Regions from separate parts of the Homo sapiens genome. Here region 2 is linked to region 1. Evidence: fine-mapped expression QTL. A gene starts in region 1. The other region holds a variant in brackets. All regions are shown on one strand. Distances are from middle to middle. Region 1 holds the start of WRN (WRN RecQ like helicase). Region 2 overlaps WRN (WRN RecQ like helicase).

What was found. PIP is the estimated chance that this variant, and not a neighbour inherited with it, causes the effect.
Region 2: its variant is the best candidate, but not a certain one, in a credible set for the expression of WRN in whole blood (INTERVAL, PIP 0.51).

Annotation. Positions count from the first base shown.
Region 1 is chr8:31,032,327-31,035,346 of GRCh38, forward strand. WRN (WRN RecQ like helicase) reads left to right here and starts at 1,484. Exons shown (of 35, transcript NM_000553.6): 1 at 1,484-1,647. PURG (purine rich element binding protein G) reads right to left here and starts at 1,030. Exons shown (of 2, transcript NM_001323311.2): 1 at 752-1,030; 2 at 1-462. The coding sequence starts at 456. RefSeq lists silencers at 1,012-1,061, 1,222-1,481, 2,452-2,521 and enhancers at 1,237-1,758, 2,592-2,641.
Region 2 is chr8:31,128,170-31,130,669 of GRCh38, forward strand. All of the region lies in intron 23 of WRN (WRN RecQ like helicase), which reads left to right. Among named protein-coding and RNA genes, the nearest start is that of WRN, 96 kb to the left of the region's middle. The variant A/G (reference allele first, on the strand shown) is at 1,372.

The DNA.
Region 1 (3,020 bases):
GTGCTTCTGCCTCCTTCTGGAGCCTTGCTCTTTGCTGTGGCCATGCTCTTGCCGGTGGCCTTTCAGGCCCAGGTGGGCATAGTGCTCGATGAAGTCCCCTAGACAGTCCTTCAGCTCCGCTGCCACAGACAGGGAGAGGGTCAGTTTACTCTTTCTGATGTTGTCCTGCCGGCCTCTCCCTATCCAGACTTCGGCTATCTTTAGGAAGCGGCCCCGGGAGCTTTGCTTCACGTCTAGGTAAAACCTCTTTTTCTGGATGTCCACTCGTTTGGAGGCCAGCTCCTGGATTTCGGCTGCGCCCCCGGCCTGATTAGGGGTGGCTGAGGCCGCGTAGTGGGGGTAGTGGGAGTGCTGGGCCTGGGGATAGAGTCTACTCTTGCTTAGGCCAGAGCCCCCTACATTCTTGCCTCCGCGGCCGCGGCCGCCGCCGCCTCCCCTTCGCCTGGCTCTTTCCATCTTCAGCTGCAAGTAACAAACAGACACACGGGATGGGGTGGGGGAGGGGTGTTGAGAACAATCGCAGACGCCCCTCGGCCTGACCGCCCCGCCGCCGCCCGCGACCCCCACGCCGGGCCCGGCTCCCCCGGCGCCGCAGCGCGGGGCTCCAGCCACTGCCGGCCGGTTGGCGGCCGCCGCTCCGGCTCTGCCCGCGCTCCCCGCATCCCTCCGCCGCCCCCGGGGCCGCTCCCGCACGCCGCCGCCGCCCGTCCCGCGCTCCGCGGCCCCAGGTCTCCAGCCGGCGGGCACTCACATCATCTCTGCCATCACCGCCGCCGCCGATGCCCTTCACGACCACCGCCGCCGCCACCGCCAGCTCTCGGCCCCTCTGCTGCAGCCGCCGCAGCCGCCGCCCCCCGCCTCCTCCCCCGCCGCCGCCGCTCGCACTGCCCCCCGCCGGAGCAGCCGGGCAGGGGCATCGCCCGCGGCGCCCACCGCAGCCGCCCCTCCTGCGGCCGCTGCGGGGGCCGCCGCCTGACTTCGGACACCGGCCCCGCACCCGCCAGGAGGGGAGGGAAGGGGAGGCGGGGAGAGCGACGGCGGGGGGCGGGCGGTGGACCCCGCCTCCCCCGGCACAGCCTGCTGAGGGGAAGAGGGGGTCTCCGCTCTTCCTCAGTGCACTCTCTGACTGAAGCCCGGCGCGTGGGGTGCAGCGGGAGTGCGAGGGGACTGGACAGGTGGGAAGATGGGAATGAGGACCGGGCGGCGGGAATGTTCTCACTTCTCCGGATTCCACCGGGATGCAGGACTCTAGCTGCCCAGCCGCACCTGCGAAGAGACTACACTTCCCGAGGTGCTCAGCGGCAGCGAGGGCCTCCACGCATGCGCACCGCGGCGCGCTGGGCGGGGCTGGATGGGCTGTGGTGGGAGGGTTGCAGCGCCGCGAGAAAGGCGAGCCGGGCCGGGGGCGGGGAAAGGGGTGGGGCAGGAACGGGGGCGGGGACGGCGCTGGAGGGGCGGGTCGGGTAGGTCTCCCGGAGCTGATGTGTACTGTGTGCGCCGGGGAGGCGCCGGCTTGTACTCGGCAGCGCGGGAATAAAGTTTGCTGATTTGGTGTCTAGCCTGGATGCCTGGGTTGCAGGCCCTGCTTGTGGTGGCGCTCCACAGTCATCCGGCTGAAGAAGACCTGTTGGACTGGATCTTCTCGGGGTAAAGTGTCTTCCTATTCCCGTTTTCCCAGCTCCGTGCCCCGGGGTATCTATAGTGCTAGGCTTCTGAGACACGTGGAGGCGCTTAGGCCCGCGGAGCAGGCCCCTGGGCTGTGTTTGGGAGATTCTGGAAAAACAGACTTTCTCCCTTTTCCTTTCCCCTCTGGAGCAGCTGGGAAAGGCGTCTCTCGGAGCTTCCGCCATTCAGAAAGTGTTTCCCCGCCCCTGACGGCCCCAGCTTGATGTTTACCTTGCGCGCTTAGTTAGGATTGCTCTTTCTAGTACGGCCTTTATTATGGCAGAAATTGAGCCACTACAGGTCTGCACAGCAAAGTCGAGGGAAATAACCTGCTGTCTATGATTTAGCAAGTGATGATGGATATTTTTGAGTTCAAATCACTCAGTCTTTAATGGATTTTCTTTTCTTTTTTTCCTAGTTGAATCTCAGTTGTTCTCAGGCTAGGTTTGATATGAAAAATACTACTCCCTATTGAAGAGGGTAATATAATTCTTAGGATGCTAATACAGGAGTCTGTAAGTCGGAGTACTTCAGGCTTTTTATGGTTCGGTACATTTCTTTTTAGGGGTGGGATATTGGGATAAGTAGGACAGTTCAGATCTTGATGTCATTGAATAGTGGTGTCTACCTAAAAGGAAGAGGCTGGGGCACAAAATTATAATTTAAAGTGTTTACTTCAGCCAAAATGAGGACAGCTGCCCAGGACTCATTTCCCAGTTGCCTTGGGGAGTGCTCCTTCAGCCTTGGTTACAAGCAGGTTTTTAAAGGCGAAGGGGAAGAGTGGGCTGAGACAAAGTTGGTCAGGAATTGTTATTGGTTTACAGAGATACCATTGCTTAGTGATTGGCTGTACACTGTAACTCATAGGGTATGAGTTATCGTGTCCAGCATATGGCATTTTATGGCTTCTTGGTTCCAGTCTAGAGCCCATATAGCAGGTGGGCTTTAAGAGATAATTATCCAGCTCAGACCGGGAGTGAGACGGGACTGTTTTTTCATTCTAATGCCTCTCTGGGCCTGATAATTTAAAGGGGCTTGCATTCTTCAGCTAAAATTTTATTTTCTTTTATTTTTTTTCCCCCACAGTGGTCTCCCTTTATTAATCCAACAAATGTTTATTAAGGACTGCTCTAGGCACTAGAGATACCAACAATGAACAAAACAGACAAACATCTCTCTCCTTTTGGAGCTTACATTTTAGTGGAAAGAGACAGGCAAAAAGTAAAATTATAGGATGACAGAAGGTGAAAATAGAGATTAAAAAGGAAAGGGGGATGAAGAGTGTGTGTGTGTGTTGTGGGTGGGGGGCTGTAGGGAGCTGCAGTTTTACAATAAGTGGTCAGGGACGTCCTCGC
Region 2 (2,500 bases), 96 kb after region 1:
AAAGTGGGAGAATTTGATATAATTTTAAGTTATTGGTAGGGTAAACAATCCAAAAATTAGTACACTGTAGAAAATTTGGTCAACATAGTAATAAGTTTGCTTATTACTATTTATCAGTATACATAGTATACTGATTTATCAGATACATAGTATATGGAGCCCTAGAGCAAGCAACTATAGCAGTGTATCTCAAGTATTTTTACTTCATGACCCACATAGCAAATGATATGTGTATATAACACACTGGGCTAATTGTCAGAGTTCAGTTTCTGTCCAAAACCCTAAGATCTGGAGTGATTAACCTTTCAGCACTCTTAGAACTCACTTGTTTGTAGCACACTGATTGAGAAGCACTGAAAGACTTCACTCCTCAAACATACATGGAATATTTCTAAAAACTATGTATTGGGCCGGGTGCAGTGGCTCATGCCTGTAATCCCAGCACTTTGGGAGGCCGAGGCGGGTGGATCCCGAGGTCAGGAGATCGAGACCATCCTGGCTAACATGATGAAACGCCGTCTCTACTAAAAATACAAAAAATTAGCCGGATGTGGTGGCGAGTGCCTGTAGTCCCAGCTACTCGGGAGGCTGAGGCAGGAGAATGGTGTGAACCCAGGAGGCGGAGCTTGCAGTGAGCCGAGATCGCGCCACTGCACTCCAGCCTGGGCAACAGAGCGAGACTCTGTCTCAAAAAAAACCAACCAACTGAACAAACAAAAAAACTAAAAAACAAAAACAAAAAAACTATGTATTAGAGCATGGGTTGGCAAACTATGGCCTGTAGGCCAAATCTGCATGCTGTTTTATTTTTTTTTATTTTTTTGACATAGGGTCACTACAGGCTGTCACACAGGCTGGAGAGCAGTGGTATGATCATAGCTCACTGTAACCTCAAATTCCTGGGCTCAAGCAATTCTCTTGCCTCACCTCAGCTTCCCAAGTAGCTACAGGCATGCACTACCAGACCCAGTTAATTAAAACAAATTTTTTTTTGGTAGAGACAGTCTCAGTATGTTGCCCAGGCTGGTTTTCAAACTCCTTGCCTCAATCAGTCCTCCTACTTCAGCCTCCTAAAGTGCTGGGATTATAGGCATGAGCCATCACGCTTGACTAATGTTTTTGTAAATAAAGTTTTCTCAGAACACAGCCATGCCTTTTGTTTATGTGTTATGTAGGGCTGCCTGAGTTAAGTAGTTGGCTGCAAAGCCTATCATGGCCTATAAAGCCTGAAATACTTACTATCTGGTCCTTTATAGAAAGTGTTTTCTGACCCTGTACTAGACTAGCTTGTCTCAAAATTCTTCAATGAATTTGGAAGTTTTCTCACCACATTTTCTGACCATAATGCACTTGAGTTAGAAGTAAATAAGC[A/G]GATAAACAACAAAATCCTCATGCATTTGGAAATTAAAAATAACACTTAAATAATTCATATTCAAAGAAAAAATCAAACTGGAAATTAAAAAAAATTTTAAACCTACAGATAACTACATTAATATGCATTAACATTTTTAGAACTTAGGGATAGTTACAATGATATACATTAAAACTGGTAAGAGGCTGGGTGCGTTGGCTCACGCCTGTAATCCCAGCACTTTGGGAGGCCGAGGCTGGGGGATCACGAGGTCAAGAGATTGAAACCATCCTGGCCAACATGGTGAAACCCCGTCTCTACTAAAAATACAAAAATCAGCTGGGCGTGGTGGCACGCGCCTGTAGTCCCAGCTACTTGGGAGGCTGAGGCAGGAGAATCGCTTGAACCTGGGAGGCGGAGGTTGCCGTGAGCCGAGATTGGGCCACTGCACTCCAGCCTGGCGACAGAGCGACACTCTTGTCTCAAAAAAAAAACAAAACAAAACAAAAAAAAAAACTAGTAAGAGGGCCCAGTGGCTCACACCTGTCATTCTAGCTCTTTGGGAGACTGAGGAGAGAGGATCAGTTGAGGCCAGGATTCAAGACCAGTCTGGGCAACATAACGAGACCGCATCTCTACAAAATTTTAATAACAACAACAAAAAAAACTGGTAAGAGGCAACATTGAATAGTACTTTGTGGGAGTTTATTAGCTTGAAATACTCATAATAGAAAAGAAAATTAATCAGCTAAGCATCTCACTAAAGAGATTAGGAGAATAAACCTAAGCATAGTTTTTTTCCCCCAAACATTATTATATCTGGAATATTGAATGCATTCTTATTGCTATTTCAAAGATACTTACTCTAAGGAAAGCAATTGAATTAGGTAGTTGAACTCTATAGTAGATTTTCTTTAATGAGTCCTTTTGTTCTCAACCTACTTAAATAATTCTCATTTGAATTTATGATAGTTTCAGATCTACCCAAAGGGTGACTTAGGAATTTAACTTCTAAATCTATTTAAATGAAAGGTTTATAATCTTTTTGTCATATTTTACAGTCGTTAGCGTTTAACAATTTATAGCATAGGATTTGGGTTTTTTTTTTTTTTTCATTTTAAAGAAGAAGTTTATTTAAGCAAGACACTT